Linked DNA regions of Homo sapiens. The protein of the gene in region 3 interacts with the protein of the main gene of each other region in a biochemical or structural test. Each region holds a gene or a part of one and is shown on either strand. Other genes may lie near its edges. The genes, in order: TTK, RANBP2, CDCA8, CDH1 and KMT2E.

Region 1 (4,373 bases), on a different chromosome or scaffold from region 3:
TTACGCACTTGAGAATTACAATGACTAAATCTATCCTACTTTCTACATTTCAGTCTTGGCCAAGAAATTTTTTTTCCAGGATAAATTTTCCCTCTCATTTAAGACTTCGTGTGTCTGTGCTCACGTACAAGCACGCACATATTTTAAGATTAGTGGTAAAGATGTTACTGAGGAACTGCTGTAATAAGATTAATGAACAAGGAAAATGAAAAAGATCACGATCATAGAGTGGAATGTTAGCATCTGCGATTTTGGAGGTCAGAATTGAGGATATAAGGAGTAGGTGGCTAAAGTAAAATTAAGGAAATGGTCATGAGACACGAAGAAGTTAGAAAAATGAAGGCCAGCTGTAGGACTGGTAATACACAGGGGTGTAGAAGCCAACAAAAACAATGACAGTTGTTGGGATCTGGTTGATCCAGAGCCTTGTATCTTCAAGGAATGATGGGGAGTTACCAGGACATTCAGAGATGAGAGTAAGTCAGAAGTATCAAAAGAGCAGGCCTTTTGCAAGAAAGAGGAAGAAATGGTCTGGACACAGAACAGAGAGCACACAGCCATATGGTAAGTGAGATGTGAGACAAAAACAATCCTCCCTTGAAGGGACTGCTGGACAAGCAGTATCCACAAGAAACTGCCTAGATTCTATACTTTTTCTTTCTACGTGTACTATTCAATGGTTTTTAGTTGCTCAGTGGTTCACAGCTGTGCAACCATCACCACAATCCAATTTTAGAATATTTTCGTCTTCTAAAAAGAAAACTCACACCCATTAGCAATCACTCCCCACTCCCCACTGCTCCCAGCCCCTGGCAACCACTAATCTACTTTCCACCTCTATGGATTTGCCTATTCTGACCATTTTATCTAAATGGGATCATAAAATATATGGGCTTTTGTGGTGAGCTTCTTTCACTTAGCACGTTGTAAATGTTCACTTATGTTGTAACATGTACTAGTACTTCATTACTGTTTATTGTTGATTAACATTCCATTGTATGGATGTACCACATTTTCTTTATCCATTCATCGGTTGGATATTTTGTTATTTCCACTTTTTGGCAATTATGAAAATGCTGCTATGAATATTTATGTACAAATATTTGTGTGGATGTATGTTTTCAATTCTCTTAACTACAAACCTAGGAGTGGAATTATTGGATCATATAAAGCTACGTTTAACCTTTTGAAGAACTCCCAGACTCTTATCCAAAATGACTGCACCATTTTACATTCCCACTAGCAGCATATGAAGGTTCTAAAATTCTCCACATCCTTGCCAACACTTGTTATTGTCTCTTGAATTACAGCCGTCCTAGTGGGTGTGAAGTAGTATCTAATTATGGTTTTGCTTTGCATTTCTTTAATGATCCATATGGTTTTCAGTTCCCTTACAATCCTATTAGTGTACAATTTTCAAATAGAAAAAAAAGAGGAGATGCTGGTTTGATACAATCTATGACTCAACCTATCAGGATCCTTATCATCTAGCATTTGTTATCTACATCTACTACTTAAGAGATCTTACTATGACAATATTTACCTTTCTCACTTTTATTTTCTCATGAGTATATAAGGAGTTTTCCAGAGACTGTATGACATGTAATAATGAAATACATTGAATGCAAAAGCAGACATAAGAATCTAGTCTTCTGTTAAGCCAATCATTAGATTTGTAAAAACTCTAACACAGTGCTACTCTTCCCACTGTAGTTATTTTGTTTCAGAAAATACATATTTTTCATAAAAGTACATTTATATTCACATGAGTTTATCAGTTATTTTATTTCATTTTATTTTTTTTGAGACAGAGTCTCGCTCTGTCACCCAGGCCGGAGTGCAGTGGCATGATATCTGCTCACTGCAAGCTCCGCCTCCTGGGTTCACACCATTCTCCTGCCTCAGCCTCCCAAGTAGCTGGGACTACAGGCGCCCACCACCACACCCGGCTAATTTTTTGTATTTTTAGTAGAGACAGGGTTTCACCATGTTAGCCAAGATGGTCTCGATCTCCTGACCTCGTGATCTGCCCGCCTTGGCCTCCCAAAGTGCTGGGATTACAGGCGTGAGCCATCGTGCCCAGCCCTCAGTTATTTTTAATAAATTAATAAACATTTTTAAAGTTTCTTGGCTTTACTTCCTAATATAGTAAATAGAGATAGATATAATCAACATAAACAAAAGCTCTTTAGGGGCACTGATAATTAAGAGTATAAAAGGCCAAATGTTTGAGAACCACTGAATTAATAAAGCCTTTACTATATTTACTACAAGTCACTGAAAAGAAATGGTAAGGAAACTATGGCCATGAACTGCAGCTATAGCTCTTTAGTATCCTACTTGATCATTCCTTCCGAAAAGCCACCAGGAATGATGACTCAGTATGTTACAAATTCATGTACGTTGTCTAGGCTATATTTTTCTATTTTTATCAATGAGTATGACCACAGGAAACTGTTAAGTGCTTGGGACAGCACTGCGCTAGTTCAGAGATCAGCATACAGTTTTCGGTAAAGGACCAGATAGTAAACATTTTAAACTTTGCAGGCCAAGTGGTCTCTAATACAACTAATCAACTCTGCTCTTATAATGCAAAAGCAGCCATAGACATTAAATGAATGAGTGTGTCAGTGTTCCAGTAAGTCTTTATTTACACAATCAGGCTAAGAACTAGATTTGGCCCATAGCACCAGTCTATCGGCAATCTAGAAACACTATCGAAGATAGAAAATAATTTAGCCTGACTTACTGAACGTATGACTGCTACTGATCACCACTTTATAAATGATTTTAAAAACCTTTAAATAAACTATTCTACTAAATATCATACACATTTAATAAAAGAAAACATTTAATATGATCATCAACCTTCGGAAATGCATTATGAACAAAAAAGCAATATTGTACTTTAGTGGAAAAGTTACCTCTGTATTAACTTTTCGGGCTAACTCCGGAATCTGCCAGTGATTTGAAGATGCAGCAGGATTCTGGTTAATACACTCTGACTTTCTCTTAGATTGCCACTGTTTCTGGTTACTCTCTGGAACCTCTGGTTCTTGATACTCTTTAGTTTCTGAAATTGTATTTGTTGTCATTAAAAAGCAAGAATATTTGATCATAATAAACTAAGCCTAAACAACAGAACATATTACAAACTATATGAGTATTTAGTTCTTAAAAACAATCAAGGAGGGAGAGAAACTAAAAGCTTTAAGCCAGCTGCTTAACAATTTGCTTTTAGCAAGTCAATTTCACAAAGTTGCACTATAGTCATCTTCCTACATTGTTACTAAGAACTTTGTCAGAGACCTTGCCACATTTAAATGCTTCTTTACCAATAAATAAGTAAAAATTTAAAAACATATAGATGTTATAAAGTCTTACTAATAGAGAAGCTAATTCATCACTTTTCATAGACCGAGTATCCAACCCTCAAAATGCAATTTAGAACATTTTTTTTTCCTTTTTGCTTTCAGCCTGGAAGCATACTTTGAAACCCTTAGTTTCTCCCTTTCCCACCAGGCATGTCCATGAACAGTGTTCACTTATCTAATTACGTACTTGCTTAGAAATTTCAGGGGCCAGTTTTGAAACAAACCAAGCAGAGATGGAGTTGCAGACTCCTCTTGCATGGGGGGAGTTTCGAACAGTTAGCCTAGCATTACCCAGCTGAAGTCAAGATGACACAAACCATACCTCCAGATGGGCAATTACTCAATATAACTATCACAACAAGACATTCAGACCTGCACCACTCCTGCATCTCTTCCACACCTTTTCCTTTTTAAACCCCTTCACTCAGCCCAAAAAGTTGAAATGGTCTTTTGAGGGCATGAGCCTGGCCAGTCCCCAGCTGCTAGCATTTGATTAATAAAACTGTTTTCCTTCCACCACACCTCACTTCTCATGTTTTTGGCCTCTGTGTTGTGAAGAGCCGGACTTGAGTCAGTTACAAATGTGGTGCCCTGTGTGAGGAACTGTGTGTTTTGAGGGGCTCAGCCTGTACGCCTGGTTTCCAACAAGTGGAGCAATTGGCTGTGGGAGCAGGCCAAGGCTCACCCACTCAGGCTACCAGGCCAACGCAGGAGCCACTTGCAAATGCCAGCTGCTCATGGCTAGCTGACCCTGCAGCTGGGACCTTAAGGAACTCCCAGCAGCTAGGGAGACCACCCTTGTCTGAAGGATTTTTCCTTCCCTTCCCTTTGTGGCATCAGCTGCTGTAACACTCAGTTAGTGAAAGGGAAGTGGCATCTTGGAGGTCAACAGAATTCAAGGGTTGGATAAATTAACCAGAGTGTACTGGGAAATCCTCCATCTTAGCCATCTGCACTTTCTAGTTATCTGGACCTAGTATAGGTCATCTGTGGTGCCAT
Region 2 (4,987 bases), on a different chromosome or scaffold from region 3:
GACTGTAATGTTTACACAAATGTGAGCTTTTAAAATCTAAAAGGTTCTCACTATTAAAAATGTTTTGTTAAATTTTGTTTTAAAAGTAAGATTTTAATATCCAAATTCCCAAAATAGACATTTTTGAAGATTTGGAAAATACAGACGGCTCAAAATCTTTACATTATTACTGTTAAATTTTGGTATGTTCTGTTATTCTGCTAGTGAAATATATATAGATTTGGGGGGGCTATTCCTTTTCCTTTTTTTTTTTTTTTTTGAGACAAGGGTCTCACTCTGGTGCCCAGGATGGAATGCAGTGGCGCTATCACAGTTCATTGTAACCTGGAACTCCTGGACTCGAGGGATCCTCCCGCCTCGACCTCCCAAAGTGCTGGGGCTACCAGCTTAAGCCACTGTGCCAGGCGAATGGCTATTCCTATATACACAGTTGACCCTTGAATAACATGGGTTTGAACTGCCTGGGCCCGCTTATAAGCCGACAGAAAATACAGTATTGGAGGGGCCTGCATATAGAGAGGTCTGACTTTTCCTCTAAGTGTTCCACCCGCAGGACTGACTGCGGGATTTGAGAATGCGCGGACTTCTTCTTCTTCTTTTTTTTTTTAGGAAGTCTTACTCTCGCCCAGGCTTGAGTGCAGTGGCGCGATCTCAGCTCACTGTAACCCTCGCCTCTCAGTTTCAAGCGATTCTCGTGCCTCAGCCTCCCGAGTAGCTGGGATTATAGGGGCCCACCTCCACGCCCAGGTAATTTTTTGTATTTTTAGTAGAGATGGGCTTTCGCCATGTTGGCCAGGCTGGTTTCGAACTCCTGACCTCAGGTGATCCGCCCGCCTCGGCCTCCCAAAGTGCTGGGATTACAGGCGTGAACCACAGCGCCCGGCGGAATGCGTGGATTTTGGCATAAGACGGTGGTTCTGGAACCAATCCCCCGCCGAGATGACTGTTTAAAAAATTGTAATTGTCCAAAACTTAATATTTGTGGTCTTTTTCATTATGCAGTTCTAAATCTCCCTTTTTTTTTTTTTTTAAATTCAGACGGAGTCTCCCTCTGTCGCCCAGACGGCGCAATCTCGGCTCACTGCAACCTCCGCCTCCCGGGTTCAAGCGATTCTCCTGCCTTAGCCTCCGGAGTAGCTGGGACTACAGGCGTCCGACACCACGGCCGGCTAATTTTTTGTATTTTTGGTAGAGATGGGGTTTCCCTGTGCTAGCCAGGATGGTCTCGATTTCCTGACCTCATGATCCGCCCGCCGTGGCCTCTCAAAGTGCTGGGATTACAGGCGTGAGCCACCACGCCTGGCCCTCATTTAATAAGATATGAATTTAAAAATGTATGCTTTAGTATTCACACATGTCCGATGCAACGTATTTAACCAGTCATCTCCAGAAACTTTGTTCCAATTTACACGTTCACCAAATTGGCCTGAGTGCTTTTTTTCTTCCAATGCATTGCGCACTTATAATTTAGAACAAGTGACCAAAACGCTTAAGAGCCCATCACGCAAATTGTTATCTGCTGGAAATCTACGCCCTAGGCTGTGGACACTGGCGGCCGAAATCTGATCCCGGCTTGCCAAGACACCCTCAGAGCACGCGGCGCTGCCAAGAGCCTGGCCGAGTGCAGCTCGAGCGCCGACGTCGCCAACGTGGCGCACACTGCTGACGCAGTACGCAAGTTCGTCACAGTGGTCCTCCGCCGGCTGCGCCGCAAGTTCGTCACAGTGGTCCTCCGCCGGCTACGGCGCTGCGTCACTGGTTTGCAGGCGCTTTCCTCTTGGAAGTGGCGACTGCTGCGGGCCTGAGCGCTGGTCTCACGCGCCTCGGGAGCCAGGTTGGCGGCGCGATGAGGCGCAGCAAGGCTGACGTGGAGCGGTACATCGCCTCGGTGCAGGGCTCCACCCCGTCGCCTCGACAGGTGAGTGGGTCTCGAAGAGACCGACGGCCTCGACCTGGCCGGGCGGCGGCCTCGCGCTGCTCAGGCGTCATGGCTCCCGACGGGCGCTGCTCCCTGGCGCGCTCTGTTGAGGCGCCGGCCGGCTGGCGCAGTCCTGTGGGCGGCGTGGCGCTTGCAAGCGCATGAAGAGTCCTGGGGGGACAGCGGTGGGCGGGAGACCTTTGGCGCCGGCGCTTCCTCTTTCTCCCGGCTTGTTCCCGACGCTTGTTCCCGACGGTGCTCGCTCCTGGGGCCGCCCTGGCCCGGGCTTTCTGGCCGATCGCGCACCCCGTAGTACCCGCGCGGCCTAGTTCTCGGGGGCTTGGGCACCCGGGTGCTGTATCGGCGGGTTTCTTCCCATCTCCTGGACATATACTTTATATGCTGCGGCGGAGGTCGTACCTCCTTGGCCTGGAGGAACCCAGTGGGGACTGACGCAGCTCCGGGTGAGCTTTGGCGGCTGCGTCGAGTGACAAGGTAGGCATCTCAGCGCGGACATTTGCAATGGCCCGACGGCGCAAATGACACTGAAAGTCCCCTTGTTTTGAGTATGAGGTGTTTGTCGCTGTCCCTTTGTAAGGGTCCAGCTCCACTCCGCTCCTCATACTCACCTCCCTCGCCCCCCTCCCCGCCCGGAACACTTTGGTAGCTGCCTTTGCTTAAAAAAAAAAAATTCTAAAGTTCTTACAAATCGTTAGTATGGCTTGCAATTTTTAACCTTTTCCACAAATGTTTTAAGGGTATTTTTCCTCTTTACATGTAAATAATGTGATCTATTTTGGATTCAATAAGACTTTAGTAATTGGATCTAAAGAGTGACGGAAGAAGCTATTAAAGGTGGATGTGCGCAGAATCTTGAGTCAGTTTGCTTTGGCTTGAATAATCACAGCACTGTCGTTTATAAGCTGGGTATTTGGGGCCAGTTACACTTTTCATCCATAGATGGAGTTGTAACATTAATAGAATTTGATAGGATGATCCATTTTAAACATTTAGGGTATTGCTTGACACATAGCACTAAATGTTAGCTACAAGTCACTTTTTATTGTTGATGTTAAAAGGATATTGGCGGGGCGCAGTGGCTCACGCCTGTAATCCCACCACTTTGGGAGGCCGAGGAGGGCGGATTGCCTGAGGTCAGGAGTTCGTGACCAGCCTGGCTAACATGTTGATACCTCGTCTCTACTAAAAATACAAAAAAAGTTAGCCGGGCGTGGTGGCGCATGCCTGTAGTCCCAGCTACCCGGGAGGCTGAGGCAGGAGAGTCGCTTGAACCCGGGAGGCGGAGGTTCCAGTGAGCCGAGATCGCGCTACTGCACTCCAGCCTGGGCGACAGAGGGAGACTCCAAAAAAACAAAAACAAAAACAAAAAAAACCCGGAAACTCACGGATGACCATGATTATAATAGTAGCATAATTGTGTCTCTTATCGTAACTAAGCATAGGTTATCTTATTTTGCGCTTCCAGCAGCCCTGTGGATATTGAGACCTGTAGAGATTTAAGATACTTGTTCAGGGTCAAATAGATAGTGCAGCAGAATTTTGGCAGTGGGTCTGATTTAGTTTCTCTTGGGAACAGTGGAGTAAGTTACAGTCTATTCCTCCAGAGGAGGAGGATAGATATCTACTTGTACATTGTAATTTCAAACTGCTAGCATAGTATAAATATGAATGTGATGATAGAGTCTAAAACAGACCTTAATTGAGGGTTCCTGTAACTCCTGAAATTAAAGACTTTAATTTTTGTGTTATTTTATTTTTTTTGAGGTGGGGTCTCACTCTGTCACCCAGCTGGATGCAGTGGCGCTATCTCGACTCACTGCACCTTCCGCCTCCCCAGCTCAAGCGATGCTCCCACCTCAGTCTCCCGAGTAGTTGGGACCACAGGTGTACCCACCACACCCGCTGTTTTGTTTTGTTTTGTATTTTTGGTAGAGACTGGGTTTCACCATGTTGCCCAGGCTGTTCTTGAACTCCTGGGCTCAAGTGATTTCCCCGCCTCCACTTCCCAAAGTGTTGGGATTATAGGCGTGAGCCACTGCACCGGCCATTATTTTATTTTTGAGACAAGGTCTCTTTCTGTCTCCCAGGCTGGAGTGCTGTGGCGGGATCGTGGCTCACTGCAGCGTTGACGTCCTGGGCTCAATCCATCCTCCCACCTTAGCCTCCTGGGTAGCTGAGACTACAGGCATGTGCCACCATGCCCGGCTTTTTTCTTTAATGTAGAGACGGGGTCTTATCATGTTACCCAGGCTGGTCTCCAACTCCTGGGCTCAAGTGATCCTCCCGCCTTGGCCCCAAGTGCTGAGATTACAGGTGTGAGCCACTCTGCTCAGCCTGATTTTTTTTTTTTTAAACAAGCTTAAAAAAAAAAAAAAGCAAGCTTAGAGCCTTTCTGAGATTCTTAGTGGGGACCTTGGCTTCCAAAAGATTAAAAACCACTGGTCTAGACAGAAGTTAGAATGTTCTTTCAACTACATAACTTCTCCATTAAATAAAGTGGAGTGGTGGCAGAATTTTGAGGATTGGTTATTATGACACCTCTCTTACACTTAGAGTCTTTTTTTTCCCCCAAATTTAAAGTCATTTACATTAGAACCTGGGGATTTCAGCGGAATATGGATTAACTAGTGAGTAACTTTGGAACATGTGAAGCTATTCTGTAAAGTTAGGTTTGAGTGAAATGACAAAACAGGGTGCTTTGGATAGAAGGTAAAGAATGGAGGGAGAAGAGGCAGTGGCTGTGAAGAATATGAAGAGGTTAGTATTCTCCCCCAGTTTGGCAGAGGCTGGCCATCTGTGAACTGCCCATGCTTTCTAGAATGTCGGAGTTTTGGAGTGTGATGATGCGTCTGTATATCATATCTTTCTAGTCTTTCATTGTGCTTTCATTTGTTAGTCTTCTCTTGTTTTGCCATTTTTCTACTCCCTCACATGTGCTTTTGCCCTTAAAAATATTCTTCGTCTGTAATCTGAGCACTTTGGGAGGCCGAGAGACCAGCCTGACCAATATGGTGAAAATCCGTCTCTATTAAAAATACAAAAATGAGC
Region 3 (4,373 bases):
AACGTGGTGAAACCCCCATCTCTACCAAAAATACAAAAGTTAGCTGGGCATGATGGCGTGTGCCTGTAGTCCCAGCTACTCAGGAGGCTGAGGCAAGAGAATCGCTTGAACCCAGGAGGCAGAGGTTGCAGTGAGCCGAGATCGCACCACTGCACTCCCGCCTGGTGACAGAGCAAGACTCCATCTCAAAAAAAAAAAAAAAAAACCCACAAAAAACAAAAACAAAACCAAAAAACAGAAAAACAGAACCCAGAGCTGAGCAACGATCTTTGCAGTCTGGGCCTCTAACCTGGGAGAGAAAACTGGGTTCTGAGTCCCGCAGAAGTGTGGAGATCAGGACCCACGCACTGAAAGGACTCTGAGGGTGAAGCGTGGGTGAGGGCCCAGGGAAAAGAAATGCTTGACTAAGCAGCACACTGTGGCCTGGCTTCCCTTGGAAATACTTCACCTCTCCGCCGCCCACTGGCACAGTGAGGAAGATCTCTTTGCTGTCAGCAAGAGGGCTGCCATTCCCTGAGATGTTGTAAATCCGCTCTCCTGCTGCTGGAGTACGCAGGCCAGGGGTCTTGAAGACCCTAGAATGGGAAAATCTCTGTGAAGATAGCTTGGCAATTGGATGACACCAAACTCTATAGGCCATTTTAACCTTACTCTGGCCTCAAGTTGCAGTTTTTAAGTCATACATTCCTAAGAAAGCACGTTCTAAATTTAGAAAAAAAAAATGTTTTAAAGCAGTAATGACTAAACACAGCTGGAGAAAGAAGGTTGTAATTATTGAACATACATCTTACAAAAAGCCAACTCTTATCCACATAAAGTTTAGGTCCAAAGCTCCATATGGGTGCCATCATCCATCCATCCACAAAGCCAGAAATACGCTGGTTAATTGTTTCCAGGCGTGGCTGCTTCCATCAAGAGGAATTTTTCAGAGGCAAAGGAGGATGATTTAGATATTACATCATTATACTAATTTCTCAAGACAGTTAAAATACTGCTACCTAGTTTTCCCTAAATGCCTTTTGTTACATATTCATGTGAGAAAACAAACAGTAAAGAAAAGTGGGAACTGGCTGAGTGCCGTGGCTCATACCTGTAATCCCAGCACTTTGGGAGGCCGAGGGGGGTGGATCACCTGAGGTCAGGAGTTCGAGACCAGCCTGGCCAACATGGCAAAATCCTGTCTCTATTAAAAATACAAAACTTAGCTGGGCATGGTGGCATGTACCTATAATCTCAGCTACTCAGGAGGCTGAGGCAGGAGAATTGCTTGAACCTGAGAGGTGGAGGTTGCAGTGAGCCGAGATTGTGCCATTGCACTCCAGCCTGGGTGACAGAGCGAGACTCCGTCTCAAAAAAAAAAAAAAAAAAAAAAAAAAAAAGTGGCAATTAAAAGTAGAAAATAAATCTTCAACACTTCCCCACACCAGAGATAACCACTTCTTGCTCTCCTCCCCAGGGGTAACCACTCTGAATTCCTTATCTATCCTTCCAGAAACTTTGTATGTATATAAAACCAAATGGGATCATACAGCACAGTGTTCAGCAACCTGCTCGGAGATGCTCTGTGATCACGGTGCTCTTTCCCTGTCAGCACACACAGATCCAGTCTTTTTTAATGGCTATACAGCATCTCCTATTTGGTCAACTAGGTTCTTTGGAAGGTATTAACTTATGCTGCAAGAATATCCTCGCTTATGCCAGCCTCCAAAAAAGCAGTATCAATTTTTACTTCTACCAAGAGTACAGGAGAGTGCCTACTCATCTTTAAAAAACTGATTTGAGGCCGGGTGTGATGGCTCATGCTTGTAATCCCAGTACATTGGAAGGCCGAGGTGGGCAGATTGCTTGAGCTCAGGAGTTCGAGACCAGCCTGGGCAACCTGGCGAAATCCCATCGCTACAAAAAAACAAAAAATTAGCCAGGCATGGTGGCATGCTTGGGAGCTAAGGTGGGAGAAGCACTTGAGCCCGGGAAGTCAAGGTTGCAGTGAGCCGTGATTGTGCCACTGCTCTCCAGCCTGGGCATTGGAGTGAGACCCTGCCTCATAATAAATAAATATTTTAAAAATAAAATAAAAACCTTCTGATTTGAATCAGAAAAGGCCAAAAACGTCACCTAGAGGCCTCCTAGTCATCACAGGCAGAATATTCACCTCCCTCCCATTAAAGAATCATTTTGCCACTGAAGATAGGTGAAACTACACTTAAGGGAGAGGCATACACCAGGAAACCCAGCTGGCCACTGTCCTCTGACAAGGCATCCCAGGCCAAGGACTCGGGACTATTTTCTTTTCTTTTCTTAAGACAGAGTCTCACTCTGTTGCCCAGGCTGGAGTGCAGTGGTGCAATTGCAGCTCACTGCAACCTCCACCTCCTGGGTTCAAGCAATTCTCCTGTCTCAGCCTCCTGAGTAGCTGGGATTACAGGCGTGCACCACCACACCCAACTAATTTTTGTATTTTTAGTAGACGCAGCGTTTCATCATCTTGGCCAGGCTGGTCTTGAACTCCTGACCTCAAGTGATCCGCCTGCCTCGGCCTCTCAAAGTGCTGGTATTACAGGCGTGAGCTACCGTGCCTGGCCTAGGAGTATTTTCTTAGACACTCCTTCTCTGGGTAGTGCTCAATGTTGGAGTCCCATCAAATCCAAGTGTTTCCCTCGATACTCACCTTGAGTCAAACCTGGGTGTCAGGCCTGGAGTTGGTTTGACCATGGACACCTCCAATCGGCCCACGGCTGGGGTAACAGTGTTAGCACGGCTTGACCTACAGGTAAGAAATGGCCATCAGGTATGCCAACTCTCAGGTTCCACGAAGGCAGCAGCAGAGGAGTGACACGTGGAGAGCTGACTGTGAGATACTGCTCCGGGCGCCTCGCACACATCGACTCACGTGACCCTTCTAACACGGGAGGCCAGCACTGCTGCCATCCTCATACACAGATGCAGAAACTCAGGTGCATCAAGTTTTAAAAACTTGCCCAAGATCACATATCCAATTAGGATGGAGCCAAAACTTTGAACCAAAGTAGTCTGCCTCCAGAATCTGACTTTTTTTTTTTTTTTTGAGACGGAGTCTTGCTCTGTTGCCCAGGCTGGAGTGCAATGGCGTAATCTTGGCTCACTGCAACCTCCACCTCCTGGGTTCAAGCGATTCTCCTGCCTCAGCCTCCCGAGTAGCTGGAACTACAGGCATGCACCACCACACCTGGCTAATTTTTGTATTTTTAGTAGAGACAGGGTTTCACCATGTTGGCCAGGCGGGTCTCAAACTCCTGACCTCAAGTGATCCACCTGCCTTGGCCTCCCAAAGTGCTGGGATTACAGGTGTGAGACACCACACTCAGCCTCAGAATCTGACTTTTTAATCAAGGAGACAGCCTCTTCATGCGAAGGCTCCCCCAGCTGGAATTCTGTCCTTGTGCCAGGCAGCTGCTGCACTGCTCAAGAGAAATGAGTTCGCTCCTCCACAGACATGCATCCCGGTGACTACTCTCCTAAGCTGCTGTACCTTCCCCCACATGGCTTATGGTAGAGTCCAGTATAATCAACTCAAGCCCATAGAGGTTCTTCACTTTGCAGGACTGGACAAAACATTTCAAGAAACCAATTATAGGTAAGTGACAGCCACTCTATGACGAGCTATGGGGTAGCTCTACATATGGACTATCAGGAACTGAAACATAACAGGCAGTTCTTGCTATACTTAAAAAAAAAAAGTGGGGGCTGAGGTGGGTGGATCACCTGAGGTCGGGGGTTCAAGACCAGCCTGACCAACATGGAGAAACCCCGCATCTACTAAAAATACAAAATTAGCCGGCATGGTGGCACATGCCTATAATCCCAGCTACTCGGGAGGCTGAGGCAGGAGAATCATTTGAACCCGCGAGGCAGAAGTTGCAGTGAGCCAAGATTGCACCATTGCACTCCAGCCTGGCCAACGAGATTGAAACTCCGTCTCAAAAAAAAAAAAAAAAAAAAGTGGGGAAGGATAGAGAATGTACATTAAAGTACTGGAGATGGTTTTGGTTTAGGTCATTTCTAGAGACCCCTCCAGCTTGGATACTCAAGGATTCAGTGATTTTAAGCTGCTTTCAAACACTAGCCACCAGAGCCTTTTCACTGCCCCTCACTTTCTGCCATGATATATATGGCTCTCCAATAAAACCCAAAACACCACAACTTTAGAAAATCCACTACCTTTTCCCTTTTCCTTTTCCTTGTATGGACTGAGTTCTCTTCTTGGATGGAGGACACCTTTTGACCTGCAGTCACAATCAAATGAGACTAAGGTTACAAAAAACCCAGCAAAGAGGAAGGTAAGGAGGGTTTTTTTTTTTTTTTTAAAGCATTAAGAACAAGCTTTGGATAGTTAA
Region 4 (4,373 bases), on a different chromosome or scaffold from region 3:
GATTGTACAGTTTCCAGGCTGGGTTGAAAGCTTGCAGTAGTGAAATAGATAGTTCAAAGCATCTCCTGGGGCAGATTCAGGGACCAGGTCTTTAGTGTCTGTTTCCAGAGGCCCTTACGCCTGGAACAATGACCACTTGATGTAATTCATTGCTTTGCACTTCCAAAGAAGTGAGGCCAAGCCCACAGTTTCTTAGAGCCCTTTCCTCCTTTGATTTCTTAGTTTCTCTTTCAGAGCCTTTCCATGACCCTAGTAAATAACTGAGCAGTAGATCTCTGTTAGCCTCCCTGTACCTCCCATTAAATGGCAATAGTGCAGTCCACCCACAGGTCAACAGGGCAACCTGCATCTCCAGATGTTCATGACAGGAGAGGAGGTGGCATGTTGCCACCATTTAGGAACTACTGTATTGTTTGGGGGAGCTGGTCTGCAGGAGTCTGCTTTTAAAAATAAATAAGGATTATAGTAATCATTGCTTCAGCAAGAATCATCCACAGATGCCAAATCCATTGGGTGAAAATTAGTTGCTGAACAAGATATTCTCAAATTATCTACCTGCAGATTATAGGTTAATCATGCAGTGAAAAAAGGCACCTTTGCTGTGAAGAAATCTGGTGGCCTTTCCCTTATCCAAGTGATCAAAGTTATCAATAGAAGCACAGACAGACATCATGTGCCTCCCAGTGTCCTGCACTAGGGAGGCCACAGCATCACCTCTGTCCTGTTCTTGCCCCCACCGACCCCTGAAATGGATTACCTGAATCTAAATTTTGAGGAATAATCAGACAAACCCAAGTTAAGGGGCATGCTACAAAACAACGGCCAGCACATTTCAAAAATGTCAGTGACAGAAAAGAAAGACCTAAGGAAGAGCCATGCCAACGAAAGGCCATATTGGATCCTGAATCCAGAAGGGTGCAAGGTTGCTATAAAGGACATTTTTGGAAAATCTGACAATTCGAATATGCACCATATATTCGACAATAGAATTCTATCAAAGTTTTGTTTCCTAAAATTGAAAATCAAGACTGGTCACGGTGGCTCACACCTGCAATCCCAGTGCTTTGGGAGGCCGAGATGGGTGGATCATCTGAGGTCAGGAGATCGAGACTATCCTGGCTAACATGGTGAAACCTCGTCTCTACTAAAAATACAAAAAATTAGCCGGGCGTGGTGGCGGGTGCCTGTAGACCCAGCTATTCAGGAGGCTGGGGCAGGAGAATGGCATGAACCTGGGAGGTGGAGCTTGCAGTGAGCTGAGATCACGCCACTGTACTCCAGCCTGGGCGACAGAACGAGACTCTGTCCCAAAAAAAAAAAAAAAGAAAAGAAAAAAAAAGAAAATCAAATTGGGGTTATATAACAGAATGCCTTTGTTCTTAGGAGATAACACATTGACATATTTATAAGTAAAGGAACATGACTTCTGCAATTTATTTGCAGATGGTTCAGCAGAACAAGAAATTATGTAGGCGTGTGTCAATATAGACAGAGCAGATGTGGCAAAGTATTAACAATGAGTAAACTCAGGTGAAGAGTTCATGGATGGTCATCATACTATTATAGTAACTTGTCTGTTGTATTGTTGGTTTTCTTGGTTTTCTTTTTTTTTTTTTTTTTTTAAAGACGGAGTTTCGGCCGGGCGCGGTGGCTCACGCCTGTAATCCCAGCACTTTGGGAGGCCGAGACGTGCGGATCATGAGGTCAGGAGATCGAGACCATCCTGGCTAAAACGGTGTAAACCGCGTCTCAACTAACAATACAAAAAAATTAGCCGGGCGTGATGGCGGGCGCCTCTAGTCCCAGCTACTCCGGAGGCTGAGGCAGAAGAATGGTGTGAACCCAGGAGGTGGAGCTTGCAGCGAGCCGACATCGCGCCACTGCACTCCAGCTTGGGCTACAGAGCAAGACTCCGTCTCAAAAAAAAAAAAAAAAAAAAAGAAAGAAAGGGTTTCACTTTTGTTGCCCAGGCTGGAGTGCAGTGGTGCAATCTCGGCTCACTGCAACCTCCATCTCCCAGGTTCAAACGATTCTCCTGCCTCACCCTCCCCAGTAGCTGGGATTACAGGCGTGTGCCACCACACCCAGCTAATTTTTGTATTTTTAGTAGAGACAGGGTTTCACCATGTTGACCAGGCTGGTCTCAAACCCCTGACCTCAGGTGATCTGCCCACCTCAGCCTCCCAAAGTGTTGGGATTACAGGCATGAGCCACCGCGACCGGCCTATTGTTGGTTTTCAAAATAAAAACGTTGGAAGTAACCATATAACTGAAGAAGCGCTTAAGCCGTTTTCAGCTACATGTTGTTTGCTGGTCCTATTCTAAAAGCCAGAGCTTGTCCCCGTTCAGATATCGGATTTGGAGAGACACTGCCAACTGGCTGGAGATTAATCCGGACACTGGTGCCATTTCCACTCGGGCTGAGCTGGACAGGGAGGATTTTGAGCACGTGAAGAACAGCACGTACACAGCCCTAATCATAGCTACAGACAATGGTAAGGGGGCCTCATCTGAGCCTTTGCTGCCTCGACCTCCTAGCTAGTTCAGTTCCTTGCCCCTCCCTTCTTTTGGAGGGAAGAGTTCATTCTTTTTCTTTTATCCTTTTTGTTTGCTGGATTGATTTGTATAAATGTATGGAGTACAAGGGTAATTTTGTTACATGCATAGATGTGTAGTGGTAAAGTCAGGGCTTTTAGGGTATCCGTCACCCAAATAACATGCATTGTACCCATTAAGTAATTGTTCATCATCTACCCCCTCCCACCCCTTGGACCCTTCCCAGCTGCCATTGTCTATCATTCCACAATCTACATCCATGTGTACACATTATCGAACTCCGACTTCTAAGTGAGAACATGCAGTATTTCTCCTTATATGTCTGATTCGTTTCACTTGAGACAATGGCCTCCAGTTTCATCCATGTTGCTGCAAAAGATTTCTCTTTTATTCTTAAACAAAGGCATTCTTATTATCAAAAATTCAAGTGGGCTGGGCACGGTGACTCACACCTGTAATCCCAGCACTTAGAGAGGCTGAGGTGGGAGGATCACTTGAGCCCAGGAGTTCAAGACCAGCCTGGGTAACATGGCAAAACCCTGTCTCTACAAAAAGTACATAAATTAGCTGAGTGTGTTGGTGAGCACCTGTAGGCCCAGCTACTCAGAAGGCTGAAGTGGTAGGATTGCTTGAGTCTGAAAGGTGGAGGCTGCAGTGAGCCAAGATTGCGCCACTGCTCTCCATCCTGGGCAACAGAGCAAGACTCTGTCTCCAAAAAAAAAATTGTTTTTTCAAGTAATTTTGGTCAAACAGAACTTACTTTTCACTACTCACTCTTTATTCCTTCCCTAAGGGAACCAGGTAATGATGGTTTACAATCCATTTCCAAAGCTTAATACTTGTGTGACCTTGGATTTGCTGTTTAATTTTTTTTTTTTTTTTGAGACAGAGTCTTGCTCTGTCACCCAGGCTGGAGTGCAGTGGTGCAATCTTGGCTCACTGCAGCTTCCGCCTCCCAGGTTCAAGCAATTGTCCTACCTCAGCCTCCCAAGTAGCTGGGATTACAGGTGTGCACCACCACGCCCAGCTAATTTTTTGTATTTTTAGTAGAAACGGGGTTTCACCATATTGGCCAAGCTGGTCTTGAACTCCTGACCTTGTGATCTGCCCACCTTGGCCTCCCAGAGTGCTGGGATTACAGGTGTGAGCCACCGTGCCTGGCCTGCTGTTTAATTTTTATGTCCCTCAATTCCTTTACCTGAAAAATGTTAATACCCATGTGGGTGAAATTAGTTAGGTGTTAAATCAGTTAGGTGTGGGTCCTTCCAGACTGCTTCTGTGTATTTAAATACATTTATAGGCTGGGTGCTAGGGTCACACCTGTAATCCCAACACTTTGGGGGTCTGAGGTGGGAGATGGCTTGAGGCCAGGAGTTCAAGACTAGCCTGGGCAACATACTGCCCATAATCTCAAAATGCTGGGATTACAGGCATGAGTTATCATGCTTGGCCTCCTTGAGTTAATTTTAAATGACGTGTGCTCATTGTTAAAAAATAAAATTTACATGAGAAAAAAGTTTTAAAAATTTACAGTCATGCCATCTAGACATATCTATTTATAGGTTTGAGATGGATTCTTCTGTTGTTTTGTATCCGTATCGTATACTAATATTGATGATAGTTCCCTGGGTACCAATTTTTCCTACTACCATATGCTCCGTGTTGTGTCAAGATATAAAAGAAATGCAAACAGAAGTGTGGATGGGCTGGGCGCAGTGGCTCACGCCTATAATCCCAACACTTTCAGAGGCTAAGATGCGAGGATCACTTGAGCTCAAGAGTTCAAGACCAGCCTGAGCAACATGATAAGACCCCCT
Region 5 (4,373 bases), on a different chromosome or scaffold from region 3:
TTGCTGTTAGGAAACAAGACACATAATCCTCTTAGGAATTACCATTATATCACATTACCACTGTGAGGTAGAATGGATCATTCATTAATTTCTTTATGAAATTTGCATGCTAAGTTTTTCTAATGAGGCTGTAGGTTTCCATGTAAATTCTGTGATAGATAGTGGCTGTAGACTGGTGATGCTATCCGTGATTTCTATGAGAAACATCCTTACAAGAACCATAGGGCATAATTTATATCTTCCCTAAGTGTAAAAGGATTTTTATCAGGGTGATAGTATACTTGAATGAAATTTGTCTAATGCAGTTTTTGCTTATGTTGGAAAATAAACTAGATTATGAATTTTTACAGGTGTGTCCCTTATGATAAAACAGCCTAACTAGTTTATAATACAGAAACGGTTGTTCTAGAAGGAATATACATTTGTATTAGGCATAATATGGCTTTATCAGATTCTTGGCGGCTTGTTGATAAAGAATGCACAAAAACTAAATGAGAACCACTGGTTATGCTAAACATTATAACTAGCTCTCTGACTTCAATTGAATGTCCTATCTATCTTTTCCTTTCTGTAGTCCATGTGAAATCTTCATGGAAAATGACAAGCAGTGGATCACATATGTGTTTATAGCAGATACAGGAGCTGGCTATCTAGAAGTTGGCAGACAGAACTGCCCAAAGGCAGAGAAAAGGTGGATATAAGATCTTCCGAGTCATAAACTTCTTAGGTGAAAACCGATTTACTAACTTGCTTCTTCCCATACCTGGACCATACATAACTAGTTACCACGATAAAGTAAGGAAACTTTCCATTGGAGTAGAGAACTTCTTCAGTTTCTATCCATAGTTCAGGTTATTTCCTAAATTCTCCTTTTTTCTCCCCCTTTTAAATAACTTGAATGAAATTTTGGTAGAAGACTGTATTTTAGAGTATATACTTCATCAAGGAATCAAAATGTATAAGATTCTGCAGTTCACACAAAAGCTTCTGTATGCATATTTCTGTAGTAGGCACATTTCAAGCCAGTGAAGAATTTAAAATGCTTAGAAGGACAAACCTTTTAAGAAGAATATTTTTATTTCACATGCTAGTTACCTTTATTCTGTTTGAAACTATCAGGATAGATGATGTAAAACCATTTCTTCTCAGACAAATGTTTCTTTACTAAATACCATAAATAGAATTTTGTTGGACAAATTGAGGATGGCAAACTTGGCCTATATGTTCTTCTAAAATTTGAAGCTGTGATTAGGATTGAGCCCTAAGTGAGCTGCGTTAATGTACCATCATTAGCTAATTTTCAAAAGGAAATAAATAGAGGTTCAAAGTGTAAAAACATGACTGAATGAGGTCACGCAGTCATTTTAGTGTTTACTTTCTCTGATGCACAGAATTTGTATCCTGTGCCAAATTATGTCAGGTAATTGGATGATGAAAAATATGTTGATTGATAAAACAGTATCATTATTATTGGATGTACTTACTGAATCCTCAGAGGTAGAAGACAAAGGCTGGGAAATTTTTAATTTTTTGAAGATTAATAATTAATAACTAACTAGCATTTTATATTTTAGCAATAAAAACGTTCACTTAAGAGGCCATTTTCATTTCACTGAGAGATCTAGGAATAATGCCTTTTTTCTTTAGTTTTTACACCCAAGACAAATTTTCCTGTTTTGGGCAAACTACCCATATTTTCAAACAGTTGTTGTACCTTGTATTCAAGAACTACTGTAATGCATTAGTGGTCTGGCTTCATTTTGTATGATGCCAGATCCTTAATTTACCCAGCACAATCATTTCAGTAGTTTCCTATGGCTCCTGCAAAAATGCAAACAGAAACCACCACAGGAACAGCCCCTTGCTGCCTCCTGTTGCTGAGGTAGTAGTCGCTAAAGAAAATTGAAGGCTCCTTACAATCTATATTTGAAAACTAGAACTTCTGTAGAAACACACAGATCCCGATCTTAGAAGTTGTACAGGACAATCTGGTAAAACTGACATAATTGTGATTTATTAACATGAATTAAAATGCCCAACCAGTGCTTCAGTGTGACAGTATATTTAAAATAAAAAAGAAATTAAAGGTCATATACTGTACTACTTTCACAAAGATCACACAGTTTTGCAAAAGACTTGTCATATGTACAATGCTATATATCAAATGAGAAAAGCTGTAAGCAATTATATACGCAAAAGAAATGCAGTATTTACAGTTTGTCAGGAGACATTAGAAATCATCTATACATTAAATTACATTTTGCTTGCAAATAACTGGTAAAACAAAATGAGCCATGTCCACACCAAAATATAAAAATCTGTATTGCATTTTTATACCTAAGATGCATTCACAGAACTGCTGCTGACAGGAAAGAAAAAAAAAATCCTCATAGTGCCATTACTTAGCTGAGTACTTAATGTGTATGTATAAAATAATAGAACATTCACTAAATGAATTTAACTAAAAAAAAAAAAAAGATCATACAGCATCAAATCAGCATCAGATCTGCCAGAAAAAAACAGCTGGAATGTTCACTTACAAAATAAAGATACCTAATACTGGCTTAACAGCACATTTTTTAAAGGAATTTTAAAAAGCAAAAATGAGAAAAATACAACGAAAGAGCACTGGTGTTTTTTATACAAAGGTTCATGTACAAGCTTTAAAAAGTACCTTAACAGGTACATATGAAATATACAGTTTATCTTACAGAACATTTAAAAAAATGTTTTTGGAGTCCATTTTAATGCCACCCTGACCCATGGTAATTGTTTTGAAATGTTGGTGGCACCTGTGCTCTGTGAATTGGAATCTGTCCAGGCACTGGAGATGCCTGCTGAGGTCCTTGAACCCCATGTGGCAGGGCCACAGAGCCAGGATGAGGACAGAACCCTGAAGCAGTAGGTGTTGGAATACTGTTTGGTCCTTGGGGCTGGAGATGAGGACCTGTGACAGGTAATGGACAATGTGGCCCTGTTCCAGAAGGCTGGTGCTGGGGTCCCGGTCCCAAAGTGGTATGATGTGTAGCTTGTGAGGGATACGGTGGTACAGTTGGATGAGCACTCGAAGGAAAAAGTGGAGGTCCTTGATGAGGTGGGTGGTGTAAGGCTTGAGCTGATGTGGTATGATGCCCAGAAGCCAAAACACTGGAAGGTGGCGGCGGAGGGGGTGGTGGGGGTGCTGAATTTACAACATGCTGGTGTTGTGCTTGTAGACCTTGGAGTCCTGTGGATGGATGGGGTGGTGGATGGTGATGAGGGGCAGGACCAGGAGGGGGTGGGGGTGGGGGTAAGTGGTGTCCAGCAGTTTGAGAATGAATATGCGACCCAGGGGTGACCGCATGAACAGGCCCTACTACATGTGCTACAGAGTGTTGCTGATGGGAATTCGGCTGTTGTACAAGGTGCGGTCCTGGAGCAGGTGGTGGTGGAGGAGGAGGGGGGACTACGGCAGCAGCAGTTTGATGGTGAATGGTAGGGTTCTGAGAGGGCAAAAAATGCCCTGGAGTCACGTGGTGTCCTGGAACTGTTTGCTGGCTTGTGGTGCCAGGAAGTGCTTGATTTGGTCCTGATGTAAACACAGTTTGTTGAGAAAGACTACCTTTGAGCTGATTATAATTCTGAAAGTTTGCAGAGGGCTGCTGGTTTTGATAGTAAGACGAAGAAGGAGGTGGAGGAGGTGGAGGGGGTGGTGCCGTGCTGTTCAGACTTTGTTGGTTAAACTGACTGTATGTTGCTGAAGATTGTCCTGAGGGTGTCTGTGTAAATAATGTTCCAGAAGTTGCCTGCTGAGTATTGGCTGGAAGGTTCTGTGCTGCTGGATAAAAGTTTCTTTGAGGCTCTCGCTGAGGTGTTCCAACTTGAGGTGACTGTGAATGATGAGGCCTGTAGGGAGATCCTAACTGCTGTGAAGGAGGCTTTGGTGAAAGATAACCATGCTGTACAGGTGTGTGAGGCGTGGATGACTTTGGAGGATTTTCTAGGTGAGGTGATGGAGGACAGTGCAACTTTGTTGGCACAGAAGGCAGCTTTTGTGAAAGTTGCTCAGATGAATTACGAACGTGTGTCTGAGGAGGATGATTCTTTGAAAGTGCTTGGTTGTTATTTGATAGCTGTTTTTGTTGGAGCTCTGTTTTTAGGTGAACACCATTTTCAGCTTCGGATGCACTAACTGTGGAGTCCCATTGGGGATCTGGTTTTGTGAATATTTTCCCGTGTGCTTGAGCAGGAATTACAGATCCAGGTGAACCAGGCTATGAAGAGAAAACAAATTATATACATTCAAGGAACATTTTGTGTACCTTGAGGTTTATTCTTGTTGGTATTTAATACTACCTAAATATTAATTTTAATGGGGGGCAGGAAATAACATC

Evidence for each region.
Region 1: of the proteins of CDCA8 (region 3) and TTK, one has a biochemical effect on the other in vitro, tested with the Homo sapiens proteins (one study listed by BioGRID and IntAct).
Region 2: of the proteins of CDCA8 (region 3) and RANBP2, one has a biochemical effect on the other in vitro, tested with the Homo sapiens proteins (one study listed by BioGRID).
Region 4: the proteins of CDCA8 (region 3) and CDH1 form a complex in vitro, tested with the Homo sapiens proteins (one study listed by BioGRID).
Region 5: the proteins of CDCA8 (region 3) and KMT2E form a complex in vitro, tested with the Homo sapiens proteins (one study listed by BioGRID).

Annotation. Positions count from the first base shown.
Region 1 is NC_000006.12:80,021,024-80,025,396, reverse strand, and holds part of TTK (dual specificity protein kinase TTK), read right to left. Parts: intron 3,074-4,373; coding exon 2,925-3,073; intron 1-2,924.
Region 2 is NC_000002.12:108,717,761-108,722,747, forward strand, and holds the start of RANBP2 (E3 SUMO-protein ligase RanBP2), read left to right. Parts: upstream 1-1,721; 5' UTR 1,722-1,846; coding exon 1,847-1,918; intron 1,919-4,987. UniProt on the Homo sapiens protein: E3 SUMO-protein ligase which facilitates SUMO1 and SUMO2 conjugation by UBE2I. Involved in transport factor (Ran-GTP, karyopherin)-mediated protein import via the F-G repeat-containing domain which acts as a docking site for substrates.
Region 3 is NC_000001.11:37,701,643-37,706,015, reverse strand, and holds part of CDCA8 (borealin), read right to left. Parts: intron 4,263-4,373; coding exon 4,198-4,262; intron 2,765-4,197; coding exon 2,669-2,764; intron 576-2,668; coding exon 449-575; intron 1-448.
Region 4 is NC_000016.10:68,816,931-68,821,303, forward strand, and holds part of CDH1 (cadherin-1 isoform 1 preproprotein), read left to right. Parts: intron 1-2,349; coding exon 2,350-2,495; intron 2,496-4,373.
Region 5 is NC_000007.14:105,111,705-105,116,077, reverse strand, and holds the end of KMT2E (inactive histone-lysine N-methyltransferase 2E), read right to left. Parts: intron 4,254-4,373; coding exon 2,745-4,253; 3' UTR 1,059-2,744; downstream 1-1,058. UniProt on the Homo sapiens protein: Associates with chromatin regions downstream of transcriptional start sites of active genes and thus regulates gene transcription. Chromatin interaction is mediated via the binding to tri-methylated histone H3 at 'Lys-4' (H3K4me3).